Linked DNA regions of Homo sapiens: region 1 is linked to region 2. Evidence: fine-mapped expression QTL. A gene starts in region 2. The other region holds a variant in brackets. All regions are shown on one strand. Distances are from middle to middle.

What was found. PIP is the estimated chance that this variant, and not a neighbour inherited with it, causes the effect.
Region 1: its variant is fine-mapped to the expression of RREB1 in fibroblasts (GTEx, PIP 0.99).

Annotation. Positions count from the first base shown.
Region 1 is chr6:7,244,584-7,259,730 of GRCh38, reverse strand. It overlaps RREB1 (ras responsive element binding protein 1), which reads right to left. Exons shown (of 13, transcript NM_001003699.4): 12 at 12,510-13,307; 13 at 7,751-11,220. The coding sequence ends at 10,763. Among named protein-coding and RNA genes, the nearest start is that of SSR1, 61 kb to the left of the region's middle. RefSeq lists an enhancer at 850-1,349. The variant A/G (reference allele first, on the strand shown) is at 7,408.
Region 2 is chr6:7,102,524-7,117,670 of GRCh38, reverse strand. RREB1 (ras responsive element binding protein 1) reads right to left here and starts at 9,710. Exons shown (of 13, transcript NM_001003699.4): 1 at 9,611-9,710. RefSeq lists silencers at 1,921-2,215, 8,342-8,431, 8,452-8,941, 9,732-9,951, 10,012-10,491 and an enhancer at 10,842-10,901.

The DNA.
Region 1 (15,147 bases), 140 kb before region 2:
AGACTGTTTGATGATTTCTCTGCTGGCTCCCCGTCTCACACTGTTGCTAGGACGTTTCTAGACCACAGTTCCGGTGCATTCACGGATGCCCTCAAGAACCTTCAACGGCTCCCACCTCCAGCAGGAAATGAACTCAAGTGTTCAGAGCTCTCCTGACTCCCTGACTCGCTCATGCGTCTATTCACGGTCTGCTGTGCGGCGTGTCAGCCAGTGGCCTGCCTCCCCTTCCAGCCGTAGCCCACACCACTCTGATGTGATGGGACACCCCGTGGCCAGCTTCCCTGTGCCCTGAGCTTCTTCCTGGCCCCGGGCCGGCGACGCTCCTCCACCCTGCTGCAACCTGCAGAAATCCTTCCAGGGGCCTCGTTCTATAAATTCTGTCTACATGTCCCCAAGCAGCAGTGCCCCCCACCTCCAAATGCCCTTGATGCTCTGGGCTTGCCACTCCATTTAACAGTGTCCTTCTCGGCTGTTTTCTCCGAAGCGGCTGGAGGGCAGAGTCTGTGTCTCATTTGCCTGAGATTTCCTCCCCTGCTGAGCTCAGGGCCTGCAAATATTTGCTGGGTAGACATGGATGGACAGCCTGACCAGGACGCCTCCTGCTCCCAGCACTGCCCCTCCCCGTCTGGGGTCCTCCTTCCGAGTCATCTGGATACGCCAGCAAGCCTAGATTCTCATCTGCCTGCCGGACTCCCCGGACTTTTTCAGAGATCATTGCAAAGCTCACCGCCATAAAGCCAATCTGCAAACACTTTTCTTGCTTCTTTTTTTAACCTCAATTAAACACACTAAAATACATAAATGAGTAAATAAATAAATAACAGGACAACTTGGTGTGGTGTAATTCAGGTTTGGTAAACAATGATGGTGTTCTCTTCTTACTCGCACCCCCTCCTCTGCCACCTCTCTCACGCTCTCCTGCTCTCTCCTGCCACCCTCCAGGTGCCCTCTCTGACCCCACCTCCCCTCCTGCCCTCACTCACAGTCAGGAAGGCTTCCCATTTCCTCCCGACTTCCCCAGTGGGACCCAAGTCCTTGGGAGTCAGGACAGAAGGTGACTTGGGTGGAGGCAGTGAGCTAGGAAAGAAAGGCAGCAGGTATGATCTGGGCCATTCGGAGGGCAGGGCAGGGGCAAGGAGGCTTGGCTGGCTGGGTGGTGCTCTGGGGCCCATCCACCCTGAACTGGGAGGAAGGGTGTTGCCCCCATCCAGTGAGCATGGGTGGCAGGGGCACTGAGCTGCAGAGGCCACCACCCCAGAGCCGCCAGAGCCACTCTTGACCAAGCACTGAGGACCAGCCTTGGCACAGGCCCTGGGTGGAGAAGTCCCAAGGACACCAAACCCACCGTTAGTGCTGGCTTGACTGAGCCTCCCTAGTGCTGATACCAGATAACAAGTGCAACTGTGTCCAGATCCGAGGGCAGCCGTGGGCGTGAGATTCATGGGAGGGCAGGGCCGCCAAAAACAGGAGTGGCTGGTTCAAAACACTGAACGGGGTCAGGGGCCATTGGTTAGGCCTTGGTATGGAAACAGAATTCTAGGTGGGGACAGACGGGGGCCCCACAGACAGGAGCGTGGAGCAGTGCCATGGGGTCAGCAGGGAGACCCGACAGGACCAAGGAGCTGAGGGAGGTGGGCAGGGTCAGCAGCAGGGCCGGCTTCCTGCAGTGGGACCCCTGCGAGGGCCTGTGCTTGGAGTTCAATGCTCCCAGGGCCCCATCTTGAAACTCTTTACGATACTATCTTTGAACTGAGATTCGTCAGTGAACTCTGATGGGACAATGGAGTGTGCACTGGCTGCCGGGAGCCCTGGCTCCTATGTGGTCCTGCCTCCCTCTCTCTCCTGCCTCCCTGGGACGGGCTCTTGGCCACTCAACCCCCTGCCCTTGCCTAGTGATTGCGGCCCCCTTGGCTCCTGGTGGAGGCCTGGGTGTGGAGGCAGAGAGGGTCGGGTGGATGTGAGATCTCAGGCACCTGTGGACACCTGCATGTAAGTATCCCAATGTCTAAGGTAATGTGGCCTTGGAGAGCCCATTGGCCGGGCACAGTGGCTCACGCTGTAATCCCAACACTTGGAAGGCCGCGGTGGGAGGATTGCTTGAGCCCAGGAATTTGAGACCAGCCTGGGCAACATGGCGAAACCCCATCCTACAAAACATACAAAAAAATTAGCCGGGTGTGGTGGTGTGCACCTTGGTCCTAGCTACTCGAGAAGCTGAGGCAGGAGGATCACTTGAGCCTGAGAGATTGAGGCTGCAGTGAGCTCAGATTGCGTCGCTACACTCCACCCTGGGCGACAGAGTGAGACCGTGTCTCTTAAAAAACAAAAAACAAAACAAAACAAAAACAAACACAAGATGGGCACAGTGGCTCATGTCTGTAATCTCAGCACTTTGGGAGACCAAGAGGGCAGATCACTTGAGGCAGCCAGAAGTTCGAGACCAGCCTGGGCAACATGGTAAAACCTTGTCTCTACTAAAAATACAAAAAAAATTAGCCAATTGTGGTGGCATATGCCTACAGTCCCAGCTACTCAGGAGGCTGAAGCACGAGAACTGCTTGAACCCAGGAGGTGGAGTTTGCAGTGAGCTGAGATTGTGCCATTGCACTCCAGCCCAGGCGACAGAGTGGGGCCCCACATTTTCATTTATCCATATGGATCCCAGCATTATGAGCCAGCCCTGACAAGTGCGTATCAGGAGACCAGGGACCCAAAGCTTCAGGGAGGTAAGCCAGGTGGAGGCAACTGCTCCTAGACTCAGTGCCAAGGTCGAGCCCAGCCACAGGTTCTTAGAAGTTCCCTTTTGGGGGGTAGGTGGTAAAGTTGGGTGGGAGCACCTGTGCCAATGTATGTAGAGGAGTGGCTGCAAAAGCAGGGAAAGAGGCCAGGCAGGAGGCTTGAAGGAAGTTTCCAGTACATATCCTAGATATCAGAGAGTTACCCCAGACCAAACAATGGCTCCATTGCAAACAATTTGCCTTGGTGTTAGCTTGAGGGGCAACTAGAGGTACAACTGAGGGGCAGGAATCTGGAACAGTCTTTAACAGAGCCCTGGTTTGCAAACTTTTCTGGGCTTTAGCAAATTCTCTAGGAATTTGCTAAAAATGTATATGGCTGGGTCCTCCCTCCTGAGATCCTGAATTAGTAGATCTGAAATGCAATTTTTTTTTTTTTTTTGAGACAGAGTCTCACTCTTGTCACCCAGGCTGGAATGCAGTGGCGTGATCTTGGCTCATGGTAACATCTGCCTCCCATGTTCAAGTGATTCTCCCGCCTCAGCCTCCCGAGTAGCTAGGATTACAGACACCTGCCACCATGCCAGCCTAATTTTTGTATTTTTAGTAGAGATGGAGTTTCACCATGTTGGCCAGGCTGGTCTTGAACTCCTGACCTCAGGTGATCTGCCCACCTTGGCCTCCCAAAGTTCTGGGATTACAGGTGTGAGCCACTGCACCCGGCCTGAAATGCAATTTTTAACAAGCAACCCAAAGAATGGTTCTTTTAGTGGGTAGGTGAGTGGGTGGGTTGTACACACAGAGGCACCTGATATGAGCGAGAAAAAATGGTCTTGGAGGCTCTGCCCTAGCTGATGCCTCATGGAGGACAGATGAGCCATCCCTGCAGAGCCCTGCCCAACCCACCGAATCCTGACCCAAAGTTTTGGTGTTCTTCGTCATGCAGCAAAAGAGAACTGGAACAGTTGGGAATTTACTCAGTGACCCTGGGAATATGTATGCCAAATATCTATGTGCCAAATCACAACAGTGCCATGTTTCCTAGAGGCCACGCATTCCTAGTTTTCAGTAACTCCCTTTTCAGTGGACGACACACACCACCCATTCTTGGGGACTTCTGTTTTAGGATTTTTCTGGTGGAGAATTTCATCCCAACAAAAGCACTCAATAGCCAGCTGACCTGGGCAAATCATTTCAATGCTCGTCCCTGCTCTGAAGGAATAAGGATTTTTTTTCCTTCACAGCTCACTGGACTTGGGTGAAGAAAAGAAACAAAAACCACAGGAAAACACTGCAGTGTGCAAAGTCCTGTACAAACACATCTGAGAATGAGGAAGGGAAAAGTGAGGCCCAATGAAAAGAGCAACACTCACCAAATTAACACGGTATTTGAGAAGCGAGATGACTTCCTTAATTTTCTTTATATTTTCCTGAAGCTCCTAAATTTTCCACACTGAGCAAGGCGTTACTTTTACGTAAATTCCCATAAAAGAGTCATGTCAGATCCATGGAGGAAGGCAGGGCTGGGGAGCAGCTGAGCCCCTTGCTGGCCCCACAGCCTGGGAAGCAGATGCCACCGTGGGGACATGAATTCCTGCCCTGACAGCTGGGCAAGACTTGAAGTGGTGAACGGCAAGGGCCAGGGATGTCACTTCCCCACTGGGCTGTGGCTTCCTTCCCCTAACAGTAAAACGGGAAAGGAGTGACCGCTTGTTTCTTATTTAGGACACTGACTCTGGCAGTCTAGAATTGGAGGGGACTCTTTTGTTGCTAAAGAGCAACCTTCAATTACAAGCTTAAAATAAGCCTAGTCATCCTCCCTCACTCCTGTCCTCCTCAGGGAGGTGGTTATGAAGGGGAGAGGCCTGAGCGCTCCAGGCCCAAGGCTTAACACCAGGACAGGCAAGCAGGCAGCTGGCGCTGTTGGCCAGTGGTTGGAGGCCCCACTCGCTCCTCAGCCCTTTCAAAGTAGCCTTTGGAATCCACAAGGATGGCAAACAGGCAGAAACCCCAAACAAGACTCTTGGGGCACTCGGGTTTAGGCAGTGGCTGAGTCTGTGCTGGGGCTGGAGTAGGGACTGTGGAAGGAACCTCTGGAGGGCCAAGATCGGCACTCTCTAAAGCCATATGTGGCTTCTGCCCACTCATTCTGAGATGGATTCTGTCTTTGAGGGGGAGAATCCACAGCCGTCTCTGCAGCCAGCTGCCGAGTCCGCCATCCACCTTATTCTGAACCAAGCTTTGGGGTCTAGACCGGAGCTTCTCAAACTTCAATGTGTGCACATATCCACTGTGGCCCTTGTTCACATGCAAATTCTGACTCAGCAGGTCTGGGTGGGTCAGAGGTTCTCATTTCTTTTATTTTTTGGTTTACGTTTTTATTTTTGTGAAGATGCGATCTCGCTCTGTCAATCAGGCTGGAGTGTGAACATAGCTCACTGCAGCCTTGAGCTCCTGGCCTCAAGCGATTCTCTTGCCTCAGCCTCCCAAAGTGCTGGGACAACAGGCATGCACCACCGCACCAGGTCAACCTGAGGTTGCCATTTCTAACAAGCTCCCAGGGATGCTGATGCTTTGGGTCTTCAGACGACACTCTGAGCAGTAAGGTAACAAGGGACTAGGCCTCATCCTGGGTGCTAGGTCTATGCCGCCAGCTCCCCCATCCCCATGCCCCATGCCCTCCTCCAGTGGAGGAGGCTTTGGTCCAGGGTGGGGATGCTGGATAAGCACCAAGGCCCAGGCAGAGTCCTGGGGCCATGGGGAGGTCACAGGCTGAGCGGGAAGGTAGTGGGATTACAGGGCCAGAGGAGGCCAGGTAGGAGAAGGTGACAAGACTCCCTGGGGTTCAAAGACAGTGCCTGCATCTTGGTGATCTCCCACAAGGCCCTCCTCTGGCTGTTCCCCGCACTGTGCCATGAATGTGTGTGGTGAAGTTCTACCTACTTCCTCACCAGGCAACCAAGGAAGCATTCCCATGAGAAGACTGTAGAAACAATAACGAGAGCCCCTAACATGCACCTTATGTAATTAACTCATAGCATCCACACAACAGTGCCCATGAGGCAGGTACTATCGCTATCCCTTTCTTAGGAATGGTGAAATTGAGGCACAAGGCCATTCACCAGCCCGAAGAGGCAGAACTGGGATTGTCATGCCAGCCAGCTTGTCCCCAGCAACACAGCTCGTGGCCACTTCTTTGTCCTGCATCTCTAACACAGCGCAGGTGGTTGGCTATGTCTTTGGGCGGAGGACCTGAGGTTTGAGATCCGCTTACCCAGGGCTAGTACATCTCCACCTGCCACCGCCCACTCAGGCATGCGGATCCCCCAAGCTCCCACATATAAATGTGTGTTAAATTCTACGTCTTTCAACAGAGGGGCCTGAAAAAGCTTAAGGACCACAGCCACAGCTCTGGTCCTGCAGGGAGGTGGCACTTAGCAGTGTATGGTACAGTGCACTCAATGCATTTTAGCATTATCCACAATCAGCCTCCTCCACAACCAACTTCTTTCAGTGTTCGTTTTTTTTTTTTTTTTTTTTTTGAGACAGTTTCACTGTGTTGGCCCAGGCTGGAGTGCAGTGGCGGCATCTCGGCTCACTGCAACCTCTGCCTCCTGGGTCCAAGGGAGTCTCGTGCCTCAGCCTCCCGAGTAGCTGGGATTACAGGCACACACCACCACACCCAAATTTTTTTGCAGTTTTAGTAGAGATGGAGTTTCACCATGTTGGCCAGGCTGGTCTCGAACTCCTGACCTCAAGTGATCCTCCCGCCTTGGCCTCCCAAAGTGCTGGGATTACAGGTGTGAGCCGCCACTCCCGGCCCAGTGTTTGTTTTTTTGAGATGGAGTCTCACTCTGTCGCCCAGGCTGGAGTGCAGTGGTGCGATCTCGGCTTAATACAAGCTCTGCCTCGCGGGTTCACACCATTCTCCTGCCTCAGCCTCCCGAGTAGCTGGGACTATAGGCACCTGCCACCATGCCTGGCTAATTTTTGTATTTTTAGTAGAGATGGTGTTTCACCGTGTTAGCCAGGATGGTCTCAATCTCCTGACCTTGTGATCCACCCACCTCGGCCTCCCAAAGTGCTGGGATTACAGGCGTGAGACACCGCACCCAGCCCCCAGTGTTGCTTTTTGAGAGCCACTCCCTAGTTATAGGAGTTGAGGCTCTGCTAGGAGTTGGGGCTCTGCTGATTGCTATTTTACCCAAATGTGAGTTTTAACCTGCACCATCCCCAGCCCTAGGGTTGCTGTCCCCTCCCGTCTCACCAAAATCTGGTCACACTAACAGATTTTGTTCTCCCTCCACTAGGTGCTGACTCAATCACTTACCACTGGGTTGGAGGAAGAAGAGGCGAGGCGGACTTCTTAGGCATTATTGCACAGGAAACAAAAATGCTGGCTTTAGCCAATGACAGAGTGGCCTGCACTGTGGTGCCTCATTAGGTCCAGCCTCCTGGCCCTGTGCACCCAACACCAAGATCTCCACTCTGAAGCTCTGACAGTGGCCATGCACTTAACTTTCCACATGCTCTCAAAGCAGCTCTCACAACTGCAGCCGAGTGCTTTTACATACAGCAGGGTCTTGCTGTGTCCCCCAGGCTGGAGGGCAGAGGAACGATCGTAGCTCATTGCAACCTCAAACTCCTGGGCTCAAGCGATCCTCCTGCCTCA[A/G]CCTCCCAAATAGCTGGGACAACAGGCATGTACCACCATGCCAAGCTAGTTCTTAAACATTTTTTTCTAGAGATAGGGGTCTCACTATTTTGCCCAGGCTGGTCTTGAACTTCTGGTTTCAAGTGAATCTCCTGCTTTGGCTTCCCAAAGTGCTGGGAGCATAGGCAAGAGTCACTGCCACAGCCTCCAGCGCAAATAAAAATGCTGCCTGGGTGACAAGAGCTTTCCTGGGCACCTGTGACTCCCCCCAATGGTACTGCACACCTGGGACCTGCCCCAAGTGGGCTGTGGGTTTGGGGATGGGATCACAACAAATCACAGGACGGCCACGTGACCGGCAATCTGCAGCTTTTAAAATATAACATTTATTGCTTAAATGGTTTGATACAGAACAGCTTTCTTCTCATTCTGAATTTGGAAGTTCTATACAACTGAATACAAAGAGGAACAAAAAGTACCAAAACCAAACTTGTGATTCTCTGTTCATGTGGCATAAACCAGTTTTGTACATAACATGTAGCAGCAGTTTTTAAGTTCCCTTTAGAAAAATATGAATTCTACAAATTTATTATTGTTTCCTGTTTAATGCATGGGCTGAAATCACTAGGATCAATTTCCTTCTTGAAGAAAGAGGAGAGGAAAGAGACGAACAGAGGGTCAGAACGCATGGTGAATCTTCCAAAACTGGCATCCGACTGTTACGTAGCTTCCCCAGCGCTGCTTGGAACACAGCCCTCTGGGTTGTTTTGTTTTCACAGCCAGGTGTTTCATGTAGTGATTGAATCTCAGCATCATGTCCATTAATCAATGAGAAAAAAAAAAAAAAAAAAAAAAGAGAAAAAACTTGCACCTCAAAAAACTTTTCAGAAGATCCATATATATATATTTTTTTGTAAAAGCCCTGAGAGAAGGAGAAAGAGAATCAAACAAAATGTATAGAAACAAATTAGCTGGACATGCAAACTAAGCTATGATTCACCCAGAGTTTAAACAAATCACAAATTTCACAGTTTAATATTGGGGGGTGGGGGAAGGGCAAAAACAACAAACAAATAATACGTTTCTCCACCTCACTAATAAAATGTGGCAAGACCTTATTGACTACGAGGGTACAGATCAAGGCTAAGTAAAGCTTTAAATCAATAGTGATTATTGCGAGCGGCAGCCCCAGCTACACACGTCGCTGGGAGCTGATTACTGCTACATCTCACCGCAGCGTAGAGTTTAGTCACAGCTTCTCCCCACAATATTGCAAGTTTAGTGTGGAGAGTCGCAAAGAAAAAACACAAGAAACCCCAAATAATAATAACAACAAAAACAACAATAACAACTGTAATAATAATAATAATAATAATAAAAACCCTAAGGGATGTATGAACTGGTTTTAACTAAGTAGGCCAAGGGATCATTGGTTCTGATTTGCATTCATCTCTACAGTAAATAAAACCTCGTTTTTAAACTGGTTCATACACCCCTAATACAGTTAAAAATCATATATACCTCAACCTTTTTTCCTTTCGTATGCGAAGATATCACTTTTCATTATCTCAAGAATATCTATCTTCCTGTGAAGTCTGGGAGGTTGGATTTCAGAAACTGGTGAAGTGGCGGAGAAAAGGGGGCGTGCACGTTTCTGTGTGAACAAGTCTATGTAAAGGAGGAGCACTGGGGCCAGAAAAGGCCAGGGGAAGGAAGCTGGGGTACAGGGGTGCCTCCCCAGGGGAAGGCAAGAGGCTCCATACACTGCAGCAAGCACAGGGGTCCCCAGCAGCAGGCTGGCTGGGGACCCCTGAGGTCTTGGCTGAGGGACCAGGAGCTCAGGTGCAGTGGGGTACATTCTCCTCCCTGCAGGCGGAGACAGTGAGGGAAGTCTATTGCCTGCACAGGATGCTCATGGGTAAAAATAACCCTGCCTTTTTGCATCCAGGGGTGTGGGCTATTTAAGAAACTAGAAACAGCACATTTATCTTCAAGCACCAACCCCACATCGCAGGAAGGTAAATATAAACCTATTTCTTATCTGACATCTTGCATGTGTAGTTTTATTACCAGTAGTAGTATTTCCTTGCTTTGCAAATGACAGTAGCACAGCTGGGTAAGGCTTGGATTAGGCTTAGCAGGAAGACTGGGAATACCTCGCTCACGAGTAATGTGCCTGGTCACTGGGTCACTGCTTTGCTTTCTCCAAAGTCATCTCTGCAGTGCTCCAGGCACGGCCCTGGCTTCTTGATGCCTGTTCCCTGGATGCATGCATCCTCACTCCACCCTCTCTGAGCTGCTCCTGGACCATGCTTGGGAAGACTGCTCACGGCCCCTTCTAAATTCTGCAGTGACAGAAGAAAGGCTTGTCTCATTACAGTAGAAGAGCTACCACCCGAGGGTGCCAACCACAACCGCAGGCACACGTTAACACGGGGACCTGGGTGCGGCACAGGTCTCCCAGGACAAATATTGCCCATTTGATTCTGCTCACTGCAGAGAACAGCAAACTGATGAACTAATAATAATAATAATAATAATAATATTAATAATACATATACTGAAAGGGAAGAGGAGGCAATCAAATATATCCTATCCGTGCATGTTTTCCATAGGTTAAGACGCCAGGGGAGTAACTCTTCTCTATAGTTAAGAATGGATGTCTTGAAACTTGAACAGTGACCATGTCTAATGCTGACAGACTGGAAATGGACATGAGGCTGAAGCTAGAATCTTCCCTGGTTTTGGCCTGAAACCATATTGGAAACCTTCATCAACCACATCCTGTAATACCAAGGACCAGATGACAGCTCCACCATGAAGCACAAAGAAAAAAGGAAAATGTCTATTTAAGAAATTATCATCTTATCCATCTTTCCTCTGGTCATTTACATGAAATTCACATCATTTTCTTCCAGTTATTGGCTATGGGTACCCAAGGGTATGTTTTTTCCTTCTGTTTCCAGCTCACAGAACAAACGGTGCTATCACAGATTCACAAGAACAAGCTCACACACACCAATACAAAATAACGCTAATGCTCAAATGAAGAGGTCCTCTCCAGACAATTCATTATAATATTTGTTTTGTTTAAGAAGTCATTTTGGAAAAATACAACACCCATGATAATATGGAGGGATCCGGTAAGTAGTTAAGGCACTGGAATCGGCACGGGCTGTGGCCTCCCGCGCAGGCTGCGGTAAGGCTATGGCACTGAGCGAGCAGCCACGCTCCTGCTTGTCTCTCTCTCTCTCTCTCTCTCTCTCTCTCTCTCTCTCTCTCACTCCTCAACAGCCAAAGGGCACTGAGGAAACCCCATGAAGTATAGACGCTTTGCTCTGCTGGCTTTTGTCTGTGCTGAGGGGGACTGAGGCTGTCACTCCATCCCCACGAGCTGGGAGGCGCCATCAGCTGTGGCCAGGATTGGGTGGGCAGGCCTCTTGCTGCGCGGCTCCAGCAGGTCCTGCCCCAGGGCCGCCGGGCTCTCTGGGTTAAGGTCACCCTGGCCAGGCTCAGACGGCCACCCTGCCGTGACCTTCTCCTCCCTGTGGCTGCAGTCCTTGGTGGCACTGGCCAAGCCCTCCTTCCGGCTCCGGGTGACAGCCATGTGGTTGCTGGCATTGGGAGCCAGCTCAGCCTCGTTCTCTGAGACGGCGTTGTTGCCGCTGTGGGTGGACTCATTCTCGCTGTCCTCCTCACCCCGCTCTTCCTTGTCGCTGTCCTTCCCGTGGTGTTTGGCATGCCTGGCTTTCTGGTGGATCCGCTGGTGGCGAACCAGGCTGTGCTTCAAGGTGAAGGTTCGCTCGCAGGTCTGACATTTGTATGGCCTTTCCCCTGGAACAATGGAAGAAAGAATTTCCATTAACCAAAAGGCACCAGTACCCACTGCACCCTGCTCTGCACAGGAAGAATGAGGCTCCCAGGCTATGTGCGGGGGGCCAGGACTCCGTCCTACTCAGCCAGAGGCCTCTTCCTTGAACCAGCAAACTGAGGACGGACAAGCTCTGTTTGCTGGTTCAAGCTGTCAGTCTGAGACCTTTCCTCTCCTTCCTCTCTCAGCCCAGGCACTCTACATACTGATCCAGAAAACCCAGGTCCCAGAAGCAGAAGCCTCAGGAGATGTGCAGACTGGCCTCGACCAGAGACTGGGAAGGAATCTAGAGGGGGACAGGAGTGGACCCTCTCAGGGATCTGTATGGACAGCAGCACCTAGGTCGGGGGCACCAGTTACCCTCTGCATTGCGATGTGGTGCAGCGGGGGCTTTCCTGATGGCTCACACGCCAGGCCCAGGGCAGGGCCCACCACGCTTGTTGGGAGCCCAAGAATATCCCTCTTCTGAGAGCCAAGGACCCTGGCCCTTCACACGGGCAAGCGCAGGGCAGAGCCGACTGCGCTGGGTCGGGGCACATGTGTTCACTGCGGGCTGCAGCTGTGACAGGGAGGGAAGCTGCGGCTGAGAGGAGGGACAGGTTATTTTGGAAAGAAGAAGGATATATCTCTGGACTCCATGAGCATATTCAGGTCTTTGTGTCAAAGTAAGCGCCCCTGCTCTGGGGTCTGCAGCCTCCACCCTGCAGGTGGTGGGTGAACTCTAGAACGGTGTGAAGGGCAGTGGCTAAGGGTCCTGTCCCAGTCATCTCAGCCGAACTGCACGGCTAAGAAAGGAAAAGGCCCTCCTGACCCTAATGGATCACCCAGGGTGCCTGCCCCACAGCGGCCTGGGGCAGTGCCTGTCGTCCAGGCCACAGGACTAGACAGGACTAAGTGGCCCAAATGCCCAGCACAAGCACCCTCTCCTAGATACCTCTATGAAACAGGGCAGCTGTTACCCCCACTCTACAGATGGGGAGGCGGAGGCAGCAGAGCTAAAGGCGGATCACAGCGTTCTCAAAAACACAACGGCCAAGGACCCTCTCCTGCCTGGCTGCAGGAGGCCTGCACCGTCTTCAAGGGCTGAGAGTACAACTCCTTAAAACTCCTAGTTCACGGGCTTAAAGGGCACACCGGCAACGTAAGCAAACGTTCTCTCGGTGGCCTCCAGCGCCGCTTCAGGGGAGCTCCTAGGAGAGGTGCCCGGCTCGCCTCCTCTTGTTGGGCCGGGGACCTGGCCTGCCCTGGTTACCTGTGTGGGAGCGCATGTGCCGGGTCAGGTCCTGCAGCGACCAGAACCGCTTGTTGCACACGCTGCAGACCTTCTTCCTCTTGTCTGCCTTGCTGGCCACGCTTTTGGGGGAGTCTGTCTTTGGTTTCTTGTCATCGTCGCTCTTCTCTGAGGACCTTTTCTCGGCCGCGCTCTCCCCGTCGGAGGGGCCCTCCGTCTCCTCCGCGAGCTTTTCCGCCGGGGCCTCCCCGGCACCCGGGGCCGACTCCACCACCTCTGCCGGGGTCTCGGGGGGCTTCTCCTCCTGTTCAGGGGCGGGCTGGGGCCCCTCCTCTGCAGTGCTGGCGCCATCTCCCTTCTCGTCCTTGGGCTCCTGGCGGCCGTGCGCCTTCCGGTGGCGGCTCAGGGTGCCCAGGAACTTGAAGCTCTTCCCACAGGTGTCGCAGGCGAGCTTCTGCTCCTGCGAGGCCGCGCCCCCGGCGCCTGCCTCGCCGTCGCCCTCCGCCAGCTTGAAGTCCATGAGCTTGGTGGCGAAGTCCAGGTCCAGGCTCTGGTTGCTCGACGCGTCCTCTTCCGCGCCGTCGGCGTCCCCAGTGCTCTCCTCAGTGCCATGCTCCTCCTCCGGCTCATGGCTCTCCCCACGCCCGTGCTCTTCCCGGTGCACCGGCGAGGCCGTTTCCGCCGTGGCCTGCTCCACAGGCGCATCCCCTGCGACCTGGCGGAGCTCAGTGGCGCCCTCCGACGGCTGCTCTCTGTCCCGTGAGGTGAGGTCTAGCACTTCGCCCGCGGCGGCTGCAGTCTCCGCATCCGACTGACTGTCTGTGGGGCAAGCACAGCGGGGAGGGCTCAGAGGGGCACCACCAGGTACGCCCATGCCAGGGATGTCGCCGGGAATGGGCTAGACCCACGCCAGCAGCCTGAACCCCAAACCAGTGAGGACTTCTTTCGGCCCAAATCCTCACCACCTGTTACATCCCCCAGGAGGACCAAGATGACCCTGGGGACGTGAAGAAAGGCAAAAGCAGCCTCCACATCACCTCAGGTGTGTTCCCAGGGCTGGCTGTGCCCCTGAACCCCTGGCTTCCACTGCCCCCGCCCCCAGGAAGGTGTGAGTGACTCAGGCAGGGCAGACAGGGGCTGCGAGATAGGAGAGGGGTGCATTCCAGAGACTCGCAGCGCTAGGGAAGTTGAGGAAGCTTGAGTTATAAGTTATTTTTCCAGTGCAAAGAGATCATACAAACATGCAACATACACAGGACCACCCCTACCCCTAATCCTCCAAAGCATGGTCTTGATGAGTTTCACAGGAAACGACCCCAAGCCTGCGTTGTGTGTGTATGGTATGCACACTCTTGCCTGACGCTCATCTCCAGGTGGAGGCTGCAGAGACCCAAGGGGGCGCAGGCAAGCTTGTAGGCTTCCTAGCTGTCAGCCTCCCAGGGGTGGTGGAATCTTTCAAAGGAAGGGCACCCTTGATGCCAGGCTTGGCAACAGCACACAGTGAGGGGAGCGGACTGTGAAGGGCTGTGGGTGCCTGTGAAGACAAGGGGTTCTGGGTTCCAGGCATCTCACCTACCCTGACTTCCTGCCTCTTGATTTGTTCCTATCTGTCCATTCCACCCAGTAAAACTGTATGTGGAAAGCCTATCAGTTTTCAACAGTCCTTTTAAGGGATGGCACGGCTGCAATATTCACATCAAACAGTGTCAAAAGGCCTTCTCTTTACTAAGGTTGAAAGAAGACTTAATAACTTCTTAAAATTATGCATTACGACAGTACATTGGAAGCTGGTGGGACCTATTATTTAGCTGCAGATCCTATGTCTGATTTAGTTTTTATTATTTTTTCAAGACGGAGTTTCGCCTTGTCGCCCAGGCTGGAGTGCAATGGTGTGATCTCCACTCACTGCAACCTCCACCTCCCGGGTTCAAGCAATTCTCCTGCCTCAGCCTCCCAAGAGCTGGGATTACAGGCGCCCACCACCACGCCCAGCTGATTTTTGTATTTTTAGTAGAGATGGGGTTTCATCATGTTCGCCAGGCTGGTCTCGAACTCCTGACCTCAGGCGATCTACCCACCTCAGCCTCCCAAAGTGCTGGGATTACAGGCGTGAGCCACCGTGCCCGGCCACTGTCTGATTTATTACTGCAGGGATTCAAGTTCCTCTGATAATTGGGTGGATGAAAGTCATTGTTTTATGGCACAAGTACGAGATGCCCCTCCCTCAATAGGCCAGATGTGATTGCAGTCCTTGAGCCAGCAGATTCACGCACCTAACCTGGATTCTCACTTGACGTGATCAGGTGTAACTACAATGTCAACCTGCATCCATCACACCTCCTCAATGTCACATGCTTGATGATTTGCCATCAAGGCGGTCAGGAGGGCTGGGGTAAGGAGCTGGTTCTGCCCCGTCCTGAGGTCTGAGGAGACAGTACCTACTGTTCACACCTGCTTGGGGCTTTAGGCTTTACCCACAGCCATCTGCATAACGCGGCTACTTACATCATTTCATTTCATTAGTTTTACACTGACTGCACTTTTTGGCAGCCACTGTTTGGGTATCTCAAGAGGTTTCAGAAAGAAATATTATGGTGTGAATATAACATTTTAAAGAAGAAATGATTTTGCAAAATTATCCAAAAGCTTAAAGAATATG
Region 2 (15,147 bases):
CTGGGAGTCCAAGGTGGGCAGATCACCTGAGGTCAGGAGTTCAAGACCAGCCTGGCCAACATGGTGAAACCCCATCTCTACTAAAAAAAATACAAAAATTAGCTGGGTGTGGTGGTAGGCGCCTGTAATCCCAGCTACTCGGGAGGCTAAGAGAATCGCTTGAACCTGGGAGGCGGAGGTTGCAGTGAGCCAAGACTGCGCCATTGCACTCCAGCCTCGGTGACAAGAGTAAAACACTTCGTCTCAAAAAAAAAAAAAAAAAAAAAAAAAAAAAAAAAAAAACAGGAAACCTATTCACATGGTTCACCTTTGTGTTTCAGAACACCCACCCCATCTTCCTGGTTATCTCCCCTATTTCTGAAGACATATCTACCTCTTTTATGAGAAAATTAAGATTTTGATTTTGTATATTCAGAGAAATGTTTTGTTTTTTACACTGAAGTGTCAGAATAAAGGGAGCTCCCTTAAAACAGTGAAAATGATTATTTTTATAAATATGATCTAAAATCAACTATTACCACGTGTATACTGCACATACACAGACACATACAAACACATAAAGCAAGATTTATACCCTGTAGATTTCTGGCTTGGTATTCTGTTTTGAATCCTACGAGTAATGGAAAAAAGAGAAGCTAAATTATACACAGACCAACACTCCTATTAACTCATACCACTAATGAAACAAAACTCTAACTAAGCAGAGAAAATGGGCCCACACATTGGAGCTCTGAAATGATTTTGGTCTTTGATCTGTGTGCCCATCTCTCCTATTTAATGTAAACTTCAAATCAAGAGCCATGAAAAATGGTTATAATTAGTAAAGGCCCCAGTGTGACAGCTTTTAGTGCAACCAGGCATTAACAAGGAGTTTTTTTCACTTTTACATTAAGCTGAGCCAACTTTTATTTTAGAATTTCTGTAATTCAAAATTCTTTCCCACCAAAGAACTTAATTCTTTCCCACCTAGCACCACCTTCTGCATGATGGGTATGCTGAAATCGTTAGTTCATGTCTATTTCCTTCATTGAATTTGTAGCACTATTTAGGCCTTAGCTTCCAAATTACATGTGGCTATTCTCCAAAATCTTCAGAAACTCTCATTTTTGTATCAGAAATCAACACACAGTGGTGAGTGAGCACCAACTATGCAATCGTTCTAGGTGCAGGAGATGGGAAAATATTCTTGAAGTGAGAGAAACATGTTAAGAGATAAATTACAACAGACAAGACTTGACAGATGGGGGTAAAAGTTACTCACAACAGAAGAGCTAATTCTCCATAGAAGAGGTAGTATTTAAGCTGGGTCTTGAAAAAAAGAGTACAAAATTTTTATTGCTGAAGGAAGGGGATGGGGATGCAACAGAATGAACAATCCAGGCAACAGGAGGCAGTAAGAATCAATTCAGTGTGGCAGTGGGGTAGAAGAGAGTGACAAGAGCTGAGACTAGAAATTCAGCTTGGAAGCAGACGAAGTTCCTTGTATGCCAAGTTAAGGAGTTTGGATTTCTTCCTGTAGACAACAGAGAGCCAAGAGATGTTTTTAAGCAGGCAAACACCACGCACGGCTTTAGTTCTGATGATTCTGGCAGCAGAGTGGAGGATGAACTGCAGTAAGGAGAAACTGGTGGCAGGAAATTAACTTGGGAGGCGTTTGTGACTTGATGAGGGCCTTAGGTCAGAAACGATAGAACAGCCAATGCCAGGGCCAGACTGGAGTGTGGTTTTGCAGAGGGCCTGGTGACTGATCGAACATTGGGGCAGGACAGACATACGTCAGGACGGCAGTAAGACTCCTGGCCTAGAAGGCTGGGTGGATGGTGATCACCTTCCAGAAGGAAGGGAGAGGACTTTCATTTTTACAAGTACCTGCAGGGTAAGGTACTTGCAGGGTGATCAGGGTGACAAAAGGTTCAAGCTTGGGAGAAGTTGTAAATGGAGATATAGAGTTGGGAGTTGGCAGTTTATAGGTTAGACGAGAAGACAGAAAAGCACCAGAACGCAGAGTGCGTTCTGCAGGAACAGGACTCGTTACCACGTATGGGACTGCAAAGGTGGCTGCAGAGCAATGGCCCTGAGCACCATCAGTGCGACTGACACCAATGGGACACTGACTAACCGCTGGTTTAGATGTAAAAAGAGCTATCTTCAAGTATTGCACATGTCTATAAAGTGGGAGCCCAGGCCACTCTAGGGGTGACTCTGCCTACCACTGGCAGCCCTTCCTTTTCTGGAATTCGATCTCTGTCTCCCTGTTTTCTTCTCCCCTCTATGGTTTCCTTACCTCCTGTCTGTGTGATAGGCTGGGGGGTGGGGGGGAAGGCCAAGGGTCAGATCAGTTAACACTTGCTGGCTAAAAGATCACTCCTGACACTATATTAGACATTTCTGGTCTGAGGCCTGGGGTCCCTTAACATAAAAATAATCACCGCCTCCTACCCTGCATCCCCTTACTCCCTCCCTATCCCTCCCAACCACAGCAGCTGGCAGCCATCCACCCTCTCAAGAGGAGATGTATGGACAGAGCACCCGGCTCAGAAACACTGCCCTATAAAAACGGCAGACGGTTATGTAAGAATTTTGCAAAAACTTGAGAAAATAAAACAAGGGAGACTACGAATGCAAAAACATTAACTGTTAAGCAAGTAAGGGCTAGTTCAAACACTTAAAAAAAAAAAAAGGTATACTCCACATAACTTAGAACATGAAGGAGGCTGCAGATGACAGCACCAGAGCAAGTTTCCCAAATAACTGAAGAGGTGACTGGGAAAGCTGAGCCATCGACCACAACAGCTTCACAAAGCCAATGAATCTAGTTTGTTTTAGAAGTAGATGACTTCTAGAATTTTCATTTACTACGGGGTTTTCAAATATATTTAATGCCACTTAACATTTTCCTCAACCCCAAATTTTCTGTGAAACTTCGAACTTGCCAACCATGGTACCTCAGAGGCAAATAAGAGCTTACTTGCTTTATGGAATTTCAGATTTCTAAATATATCGCATGCAATACAGGCAGCGCACCCAGTGGACTTGTAGATGAGACCCAGGCCACGACTACTGTACCTTTCAAGCAGGCTTTCTCAACCTCAGCTCTGCTGACGTATGGGGGTCGTTCTGTGCACTCCAAGATGTGGAACAGCATCTTTGGGGTCTATGCACTAAAGGCCAGTAGCAGCTCCCCGCTGCCGCCCCCCCCCCCACCAGAAACACTTAAAAATGTCTCCAGACAGTGCCAAAAGTCCCCTGGGGGCAAACCCACCAGGTTGAGAACCACTTCTTCAAAGAGTAAGCCCCAAGCTTGTCATCAGCTTTTTCCTTAAAACTCATCCCTCACCCTGATCAACATGGTGAAACCCTGTTACTACTAAAAATACAAAAATTAGCTGGGCGTGGTGGTGTGTGCCTGTAGTCCCACCTGCTCAGGAGACTGAGGCAGGAGAATCGCTTGAACCCTGGAGGTGGAGGTTGCAGACAGGCAAGATTGTGCCACTGCACTCCATCCTGGGCGACAGCAAGACTCTGCCTCACCTAAGTGAACCACATTAAGAAGAATTTGCTAGTCCTGTTAGTCTCCCAGCACTAAAAACAAAAACAAAGTGCTGCATTTCCCCAATCTGAACATAAACTCCTAGGCAAAATTTGACTAAGGTAATGGAGGTGTGCAAAATTCTGGAAAGGAAATCCAGAATGGATACCCACAAAGCTTCCTGAGCTCAAAATATACCACTTTCTTCCGTTTATAGATTTTGACTTTCTGGAACATCTACTTTATCCTTACAACAATCTCATGAGGTAGAAAGGCTACTAAAAAGATACATGTCATCACAGTTCATCAACAGAAATGCTACCAAGAGCAGAAGTGCTTTTTAAAATTTCCTTATACCTTCAAACTCAATTAGGTTTATTTTGAAAAGGATCTGGTCTTATTTAAAAACCACACACCATACACATGGAGATAAATAGGCAGTATATATTTAATGCTGCTAAGTCCTCCTGAGGTCAAACTGACTCTAAAAAGCAGCTGTTCTACAGGGCTAGGCTGGAGTTAGGAGTTCTGGGTTCCAAGTTTGATTCATTAACAGCCCCCGGGTGGACCACCGCGCAGCTGTAAAATGGGTCAACATACCCACCCAACTCCCACAGTGTTCCTCTCAGCATGAACGTGGAATCTTTGCTAAAGGCCTCCACAAAAGCAGGGTGAAATTAACTAAGTCCTAGAAGGTATATCTGAATGAAAAAGAAAAATTTTAAAGTGATTAAACCACCAGAAGTATCAGACACTTTCATAACAATTCTATCCCATAGTCTCTGAAAAGGGGGAAAGAGATGAAATACCAAGCAAACTAGAGAAAAACAAATAGAGCATTTAAAAGCTTTATCTAATTACCCCCACTGAGACGTTTTCTCTTCACTCTGGCTGTCTGACAATGCCTGTGGGGGTTTTCATTCTCTTTCTCCACCCACCCTCATGATGTCTGCAAGCCCTCAGGTGAATCCCTGCAGGAGCAGTCAGGACCCAGTCCCCAGTCCCCGGACTTCACAGAGGTTTTCGAATTCTCTTAGCTTTACTGGCTTGAATCACACTGAACAAACAATCTCCACCCTCTCCCATGCTTTCGTCTGAAGCACCTACTCACAGTCAGCCACCTCTACTGATGGGCAGACTGGCTAACTTCAGTACCCTTGAAGTCCCACCAGAAATAAGATGCACCGATCGCTCCCAGTCTCCTCCTCCCCATCCGCTTCACCCCAACCCGCCACTGCCAACGGCAGAGTGCAATCCCCAGCTACACTCGGCTGCAGTTCAGACCACGCTGAACACCAGAGAACGTGACAAGAGAAATTGGGCGGAGCACAGTCGATGACATTGCCGACAGGACTGCTAACAAAAAAGGAAAAACCCCTCTCCACCTTCCTCATTCTTTTACCTCCGTAGTAATGAAAACAACAGTAGTTTTCTTTTCTGTATTCTGCCTTCTATGGGAGTGGGGGAAATGAAAAATAAGTGATGCATTTCAGAGAGCACACCGTATGCCTCCCTCTGGGTTTCATACGGTGTACCTTTTACCTTTGATATAAGGTACCTGCAACCCTGCAACCCTCACCCCCCTGTGGAAATCACTGTCTGACCCTTGCTCTTTGAAAACTGCCATGGCTACTTCTACTCAAAAATCACTGTCTAAATCAGGAAAGAAAGAGAGAAAAGAAACAGAAAGAAAATACATTTATCAATTTCTTAATTATATTTGGACATAAAAAATATGACTCAACACTGCCTGTTCAATAGGTCAGATGTACAGAAATTAACCTTGAAGCAGGGAAACTTTTGGCTTACAACAGGCTTACCATTCAACCAAGAGATGATAGTTACTCATCATGGCTTCAATTAGATTTCAACCATTTTATCTCAATGAAAAACTTCAAGATACTTGAACATACTTTTGGCAGAAATGTAATGTACATCACACCTATTTTTGTTTTCTGACATTTGGCCAGTCCTTCCAAAGATACTCTGAACCTAATATAATTATTTTTAAAAAGATAGCTATGAACTGGGCGGAATAAACTGCACTAGGGAGGTGGAATGAAATGGAGGAGAAGCCCTATCAAAACCTAATCTAAGGGAATGGTAATCTCAGTAAAGGGGGAAAGAAAGCTATTGTCCCCTTATCAGGACAGACTACATTGCATACTTTCTACTGATACTAAATTGCATTTCTATCTTTGAATACAAATCTGTTTCATGCGGAATAAAAGACATAACTTTATGGATTATGCAGAATTTCCAAAACAAACCATGGAATCAGTTATTAATACTAGAAATAAGAGGGTACTATACACACAAATCCTCAGGAAGGTTCAACCTGAACACACTGGTAATAGTCAAGAAGTCCACCAGACAAGCTGCCATCTGACACCACAAGGCTGGTCATAGAGTACTGAACTTCAATTAAAGACACTTACAAAAGAAAGAGATTATTTAAATATAATAACAAAACCAAAACAAACTTTAACATCCTACCTTCCCAGGTCAAAGGACATAGAAGATTCAGAAATTAACTAAACCTAGTAAATAATGTAAAACAGGGAATGACTCCCTTTCAAAAATGCTTTGGTTAATTTTAGCATCCTTCTGTTTAGCTGCTTAGCAACCCTTATCCTATGACCTTCTAAGCACCACCTACTTTTCAGAAGGATAATGAACAGAAACATCAAAAGAATTCACTTCTGTTTCCAAAGAATATATTTAACCAATTCTTATAGGAGTTAAATTTATATTAATTATGCTGAGCAAAATCCTAAAAGGGTAGCATTTTAAAACTTCATTAACTAGGACATTTCCTTAGCTGAAGGTGATAAATGATGTTAGCAAGCAAGCATAAGATAGCAAGCAAAGACTTCCTAACTGACCTCAGAAGTGGAATAACGCAACAGTTCAAAATTGAAGAGCAAAAACGACCTAAGGCAGCTACACTGTACAGTGCCTGGCACACAGCAGGTAACCAATAAACTGCTGTTGATCAGATGCTGGACTAATACGTGTAGGTTTATTTTCTTCCTTCAACACGCTGTACCTGTGTTGGATACAAATAAGGCCTTGGGAGTCTGCCCGAAGAAATTTAAAAGACCCTTCAATCAAAAGGTCGCTTGTTGGATGATGTAACTAGTTAGGAATGGATGCACTACCTGTACCAGCTCAATAAGACGCATGTTCCCCATCACATAACAAATACTTGTCTGCCATAAGGGCTTAGAGTCTGATTTTCTGATGAGAAATAAAGCAGTATCTAGAAAAACCCAGAGAATGATATTCCACAAAACGGTAAGCATCGGCAGCATTTCTTAAGAGTATTACACATCCAGCAAATCCTCTTTAAAAACAAGACATTCTAAAATGCAACCAGTTTAGCAGTATTTTTAAGACAAAGACAATGCAAGTTCATTAACCTAAAATGGAGCACAAGCTAAGCAAATAACTAAATCAAAGAGTTCTTCTCTCCTTTTCTTTTGTAAAAATGGGGGAAAGGTATTTTTTTAACACATTTAAAACTTGATTAAAGCCATTCAAATGTTTAATTCATCAGTGTAACCAAAGCTCAAAGCACATCAAAGCAGGACCCATCAGCGGGTACCCAGAAGGCTCCCTCCAAAGGGCGGAGGTAAACACATACACACACACACACACACCACCCCTAAAATTAGTGATTCTGTCTTTGTATAAATTACTTGTAGAGTAGCTCGAACCCATTCCTTCAGAAGTTCTGTGGACTCTTGAAGATAGCACAAAACTCAACGTTTGTTTTTCAAAGAGGTTTTAGCCAACACTTTGGCCTCTATCTAACTCAGACTTCCGGGTTGAAATATGTCTTAGAAACTATACCTGCCTACTTGAAAAAGCACCAAATCTAGAGGATGATTTTCATGGGTGTGAAAAAACAAAACTAAACCACATTCTTTTCTTGGCAGTTCTCTTTTCCCCACCTTCCACTTCAATTAAACTTATTTCAGAATCAACTCGCACACATGCAGGGTCCACTACATATATAAAGGGGAAAAAAAATATCAAAAATAATGGAGATGCACTAGCAACTCTGCCTTTGCAGAAATCATTTCTTCTTAAGACAGAAATTCCTCGCTATTTCCAGCAACACCATTCAACAGGCAAACTTTATTTCCACTGGCTTTTAAAGAGCTAAGCTTAAATCTAAACTCTAAGAGGGTTCAATTTTCTACTAATGAAAACCCCCGGACAGGTTTTTCAACATACCAAAACGTTATATTTTTTTATTCACCCTTTTGTCTCTCTCCACATCCACCACCATCACAAGCAGCAGCAGCAGGAGCATCCTCAAACGAAGAAAACCCCTCCAAAGTGCCCCGAATGTGTGCTGCTGCTGGCTCTGAAGCCGTGTAGAATTTCGTAATGGAATGTGAACTGCTCGTCCGGATCTGGGCTCACGTTCTATCTCCTAACCAGTAAGGAGCGAGGGAGGGCAAATCTGCTGAGCAAGGAGAAATACTTTCCTCCTCTTTTATAACCCATCACGGATGCACGGCGGCCGAGGGGCGCGAGCTGCACGCGGCGCCTGTCAAGCGGCCCGGGCCCGCACCCCGTGGGGTCCCCGCGTCCCCCAGCTCCCCGCCCCGCCCGGAGAGAAAGGTGGCCTCGCCCATCGGTGGGCTCGGCCGACGCGCCCCGCACTCACGCGCGGCCGCGGAGCAGGTCACATCCTCGACGCGCCCTTGGCCCGGTCCAGAAAACACGCCGCTTCCCAGGGAGGGGGTCGGCGACGGGAAGGACCTCCCCTGCTCCTTAGCAACCATTAAGGTCGCAGTTTCCTAAGAGACCGCGAGCGGGGAGGGGGCGCGGGGGGCCCGGCCCAAGGCTTGTGCGGGAAGTTGGGGGCGGGGGGGGCAGCAACAGGCCCCCTCCCCCCACCCAGCTAGACGCCGGGGGCCGGGATGGGAGGAGGAAGGGAAGCCCCAGAACTCGTGAAAAACTGGTCCAGCGGGCGGCGGACAAAAGTTTCCGAGCGCGCTCCACAGCTGGGCGGCGGAGCGGGCCCCGGCGGCCGGCCCCGCCTCGGATGCTCCCGGCCTCCTTCCTGTGCTCGTGACGGCGCCGAGCCCCCCACCCCCCCCGCCCGCGAGGCAGGCTAGCTCCACACCGAGGGCTCCCACGAAAACACTCACCCCGCCAACGGAAGGGCGAGGGAACAATACGTGCCCGCACGGCTAGGGCCCGGTCCCCTCCTCCCCAGGCCCCCCGGGGCGGTGGTCGGCGTGACCACGACCGCCAGCCGGGAACCCGCGAGGGCGCGGGGCTGCCCGCGGCCCCCTCCCGGCCGGCGCCGTCCGCCCGGGAGGTTCAAAGTCCGCAGAGCAGGGCGCGGCGGATGCTCCCACCGAGCAGCCCCGAGCAGGCACCCCCGCGCGAGCACCCCGGGCAGGCACCCCCGGATACCTTAGGGCGGCGGCGGGAGGGCGGGCGCCGTCATCTCCGCGCTTCCCGGCCCGAGAAGGACTCGAAAGTATGTAGGAGAAAAGTTTCCCCTCCCACATGGGGGGGAGGATGTCGAGGGAGAGAGGGCGGAAGATGGAGAGCAGCGCTGGGAAGATGTTTCTGGCCGGCGGTGCGCGCACCATCCGAGTCCCGGCGGTGCTGGTTAAAAATAAACTCGGCGGCGCGGGTCGGGCCGGATTCCTGCGCTCGGACGGCTAATATGGATGCGCATCAGGTCCTGCTGGCGGGGCGCTGCGGCGGCTCGCGCTGGGAGCTGGTTGGCAGAGCCGGCGGCTCGGGAAAGGGAAAAGAGCGGAGGAAGGGGAGGAGGAGGAGGAGGAGGAGGAATGGCCCGGCGCGCAGCCCGAGGGGAGAGGGCTGCCCCGCTCATCCCTGGCCGCCCCGCCGGCCCGAGCGCACGCTGCGCGGAGTGGGGCGTGCGGGTCCCCGGCTCCGGGACACACCGAGTTTCAAAAGTACAACGCGCTCTGCAGACTTCACCCTCCCCATCCCCAAAGTTCTTTAAAAGGTCGCTCCGGCTGTGCCCCAGACTTCTCGCTGCCGCCGGCGTACCGCGAGTCGGAATCCGGGGCACGTACTTACGGCCGGGCAGGACGCTTGGCTCCCTGGCATGATGCGTTGGGGACCGGTGGGCTTCAGGGAGAGACCGAGGAGAGATGCAAACTTGTTCCGGAAAAGGAATCAAAATGGCGTTTCTGGATGTGCAAAGTTCATCAACTCCGCAGTCACTTCCCCTCCTCCTCTTCTCCCACAGGGAGGGAGGTGGGCGAGGAGCTGGCGACCCCGGCGCCCCAGCCGTCGTCCCGGCCCCCGTCTCGGCCCCCCGCCCAGCTTCCTCGCCCGCACGCTCGGAGTCTCGCTCTCCCCCTCTCACCCTGATAAGTAGACACATCACGTGTTGCTCCTGCGAGTCTCCTGGGGACGTGTTACTGAGCGGCCGCGGCGGCGGCGGCGGCGGCGGCGGCGGCGCTCGGACTGGGGGGGGTGAGGGGGAGGACCGCCGCCCCCGCCCCGACTTTAGCAGGGTGACCGCAGTTGCCATCCCGGGATGGATGGAGGTGGAGTCCCCTCCCCACCCCCCACCGCAGCCCCAGGTTTGCCCTACGCCCTCCCAAGGCGCCCCGGGCCATGGGAGGGCCGGGCTGCCCGAGGGGAAGGGTCCGGGAGGCCGCGACTGGCTGCGATCCCAATCGTCCCGTTGCTCGCGGGCCACCTTATTCGGCCACCGCGCCCCCTCCCCTGCAGCCCCTCGCCGCGGGCGACTCCCCGCCCCCGGCTTTCCATCACTTCACTCCGCAGTTTCACTATTTTAACGGAGGCGGGGGAGACACGGTGATGCCTCGGAATTGCGAGAGGGGCACCTCAGAGGCGCTGGAGTTGGGGGGATGGGGGGCGTAGGGCTCGGGGCCCTGGCCTGACGCCGCCCCTCTGGGTCTCCGAGGCATCTGCGAGGGGGAGCCCCGCCCGCGCCGTTTCCTTTCCACGCGGTCCTCGCTCTGCATCCAGGTGGGGCGAGTGGATGATGGGGCAGGAGATTAAGGAGCAGGCGCTTCACCCCGCCCCTAGCTTCGAGCCGTTTCTCTCCCGGGGCCATCCTTCTTACTCGGGCTGCCGCCCTGAGTGTGCTCGCCGTCTAACAAACTCAACTCCGACCCGACTTTGGTCCCCCTCCCTTACCCACACCCCACAAAGGATGCTTCAGCGGGGAACTGCCGTGGCCGCCAGGGGCTGAGGACGGTTCCTGCCGCCACTGTGTCCCCACCCCGCGATGGAATGGCTGATGCTGTGTCATCCACGTCGCCCTCCAAGGCTTCAGAGAAGCCACACGCAGTATCTCTTTCTCTCAGAGGGCTCCTGTTTCAACTCTGAAAAGCAGGGGCCCTTCTCCGAGCCGCTCTCCATCTCTCCAGCTCCTGCCACCACGCTTCGCACTGGCTGCCTTGCCCCAAGTTATCACGGAGCCCAGAGAAACCAGGCCTGGGCTGTGCTTCCTCCATAAAGCAGCTGACATGTTTCCAACTGTTAATACTTCTCCTACCGAGGTTCTGAAAGGGGTCTGTTCTCAGCCTTTGGAAACATCTTCAGAAAGATAAGGATGATTGTGGTTGTTGAAAATAAACACGCCCCCCCCCCCCCGCCCCCGTAGTTCTAAAGAAGAATGTCCAAAGAATACTACAGTAGAATTAAGCGTTTGAGTCTGGTTAGGCAAGATGATGTTATGCAGGCAGAAAGCTGGCTACTTTCTATTTACTATGACCTTTGACCCTGGCTCCACCACACCAGCTCCTCTGAGAAGGCTTGAACACCATGGAGAGTTGTAAGCCCAACTGTGGGCCTTTAATTTGAGCCCTTCCATTGACCTCTAGTTTTCAGGGCTGCAGACAGAAGTGTCTGTCTCGGGATGGGTCCTGGCCAGAATAGAACTCTTTAGAACCAAGGAAAAGCAGCTGGACCCTTAGGTCTGATATGAGATAAGTAGGCTAAACCACTGCCCAAGAAGGAGCTGATTCAGCTGGCTGTTTCTCTGACTTTCAGTCATCAAAATTAAGTTTTCGGAACCTGTTATGTTTCCCAGGGTCTACTGTTTACTGAAGAAAACTCCATCCAGAGAAATTTTAGCGGTTGCATTTTTCTGAGCCTCCCCCAACCCCGCCGCCCCCAAATGTATTATCAAATGCTTTTTTGAAGACAGGCCAGTCGTGGAGGAGATGGGCAGGTCTCTAGACAGGAATAATAGTTCACATTGCCATCATAGAATAGGTGTCTTGTGTTTCTAAGTTGTAATGTGTTCCAATGAGGGCAGAGGAAGGGCCCTGTGGGGAATGCTACTTTATTTACTCACTTTGTCTCTGATTCAGGAGCTAGCCTTTCCTGGTCTCCCCATTCAGGGATAAGTTTTGAATAGGAAAAATATCAAAATTGGAATTTTATGCATAATTTAGCAAATCTCCAATGCTATATGAATTTTCATGACAAATTGCCACCTGTATAATGCCATCTAGAAAATACTGGCAACAAAAAAGATTGAAAACAGTTTTACTACAACTTTTTTTAATTTTTTTTTTTTTTTGGAGACAGAGCATCACTCTGTTGCCCGGGCTGGAGTTCAGTGGTGGGATCACAACTCACTGCAGCTTTGAATTCCTGGTCTCAAGTGATCCTCCACCTTTAGCCTCCCAAGTAGGTGGGACTACAGTGCATGTCACCACATCTAGTTAATTTTAAAAGTTTTAGTAGAGAGGAGGTCTTGCTATGTTGCCCAGGCTGGTCTCAGGCTCTAGGGCTCAAGTGATTCTCCCACCTTGGCCTCCCAAATTGCTGGGATTACAGGTGTAAGCCATTGTGCCCAGCCTATTACATGTTATATTTTCAAAATTGGAGTATCATGATGCTGGGCCCTGTGTTTCTCATTTCTAGCTAATTAATAAACTTGGCAGTCAAACCAGCTGTTCAGGAGTCATGCTATCTAAACCATGATGAGATGCCACTTCACACCCACTAGGATGTTTATAATAAAAAAACAGACAATAAGTGTTGAAGAGAGTATGGAGAAATTGAAACCTTCATACATTGCTGGTGAGAATGTACAATGATGCAGCCACTTTGAAAAATAGCTTGGCAGTTCCTCGAAATGTTAAACACAGAGTTGCCATATGACCCAGCAATTCCGCTCTTAGGTACATAAACAAGAAATGAAAACATATGTCCACATAAAAACTTGTACTCAAATATTCATAGCAGCACTATTCACAATAGCCAAAAAGTGGAAACAACTCAAATATTCATCAGTTGGTGGATGGATAAACAAAATGTGATACAGCCATACATAGACTGTTATTCAGCCATCAAAAGGAATGAAGTACTGATGCACGATACAACATGGATGAATCTTGAAAACATTATGCTAAATGAAAGAAGTCAGACCCAACAGGACAAATAATGGATGATTCCGTTTATATGAAATGTCCAGAATAGGCAAATTGATAGAGATGGAAAGTAGATTAATGGTTGCCTAGAACTGAGGACTAGGGAGAAGTAGGGATTGACTGCTAATGTGTGGGGTTTCTTTTTGGGATGCTAAAAATGTAGTAGGCCAGACTACCCCTCTCCCCACCTCCTCCCTCCTCCCTCCTCTTTCCACCTCTCCCCTTCCCCCTCCCTGTCTCCCACTCTCTCACTCCCTCTCACTCTGCCATATAAGAAGTATCTTGCTTCCCATTCACAAAACAACAGCAACAACAGTGTAGACCAGGCAAGGTGGCTCCTGCCTGTAATCCCAGCACTTTGGGAAGTCAAGGCAGAGGATCGCTTGAGGCCAGGGATTTGAGACCAGCCTGGCCAACGTGGTGAAACCCTGTCTCTACTAAAAATACAAAAAATTAGCCGGGCATGGTGGCGGGTGCCTGTAATCCCAGCTACTTGGGAGCCTGAGGCAGAAGAATCGCTTGAACCCAGGAGGTGGAGGTTGCAGTGAGCTGAGATCGCGCCATTGCACTCCCGCGAGACTCTGTCTAAAAAAGAAAAAAAAAAACATCCTGGCCAACATGGTGAAACCTCGTCTCTACTAAAATACAAAAAAAAATTAGTTGGGCATAGTGGTGTGTGCCTGTAGTCCCAGCTACTGGGGAAGATGAGGCAGGGGAATCCCTTGAACCCAAGAGGCAGAGGTGGAGATAGCAGTGAGCCAGGATCGCACCACTGCACTCCAGCCTGGCGACAGAACACAACACCATCTCAAGGAAAAATTAAAAAAAATTAAAAACTTAGCCAGACATGGTGGCATATGCTTATAGTCCCAGCTACTTGGGAGTCTGAGGCTGGAAAATCACTTGAGCTTGGTAGATCAAGGGTGCAGTGAGCTATGCTTGTGCCACTGCATTCCAGACTCAGCGACAGAGTGAGACCCTGTCTCAAAAAAATTAAAATTAATTAAAATTAAAGTGTTTTAAAATTGATTGTGGTTAGGGTACACAACTCTAAATATACTAAAAATCCATTGAATTGTACATTTTAAATGGGTGAATTGTATGGTATGTGAGTTATATCCCAATAAAGCTGAGCTGTATAGACATATATGGAATTGTGCTGGGTTCTGTAGTGGAGAACTGATACAAAAATGGGTAATTTATAATCTGTGCCTTAAAAGAGCTTGCAATCTGATCTCTGCATCCTCATGATGTAATCATGAAATAAAATAATATATTATATATTATATTATATATATTATATTATATATAATATTATATATTATATATATTATATTATATATAATATTATATATTATATGTTAATTAACATATAATATTATATATTATATGTTAATTAACATATAATATTATATATTATATGTTAATTAACATATAATATATATTAATATATATAATATATAATATAACATAAAACATATAATAAAAAACATTAAATACATACCAAATTCAGTTCAGAGCAAAGAGATCACTTTTTTTGAGACGTAATCTAACATATAATAAAAAAAATTAAATACATACAAAATCCAGGAGTTCAGAGCAAAGAGATCACTTCTTTTTTTTTCTTTTTATTTTTTTGAGACATAGTCTCACTCTGTTGCCCAGGCTAGAGTGCAGTGGTGCAATATCAGCTCACTGCAACCTTTGCCTCCCGGGTTCAAGCAATTCTCCTGCCTCAGCCTCCTAAGTAGCTGGGATTACAGGTACCCACCACCATGCCCAGCTAATTTTTGTATTTTTAGTACAGATGGGGTTTACCATGTTGACCAAGTTGGTCTCGAACTCCTGACCTCAAGTGATCCTCCCGCCTTGGCCTCCCAAAGTGCCGGGATTACAGGTGTGAGCCACTGTGCCCAGCAGAAATCACTTCTTTTTTTCTTTTCTTTTCCTTGTTTCTTTCTTTCTTTTTTTTTTTTTTGAGACAGAGTCTCACTCTGTTGCCCAGGCTAGAGTGCAATGGCGCAATCTCGGCTCACTGCAACCTCTGCCTTCTGGGTTCAAGCTATTCTACCGCCTCAGCCTCCTGAGTGGCTTGGATTACAGGCGCCCATCATCATGCCTGGCTAATTTTTGTATTTTTGTAGAGATGGGGTTTCACCATGTTGGCCAGGCTGATCTTTTTTCTTTTTTTCT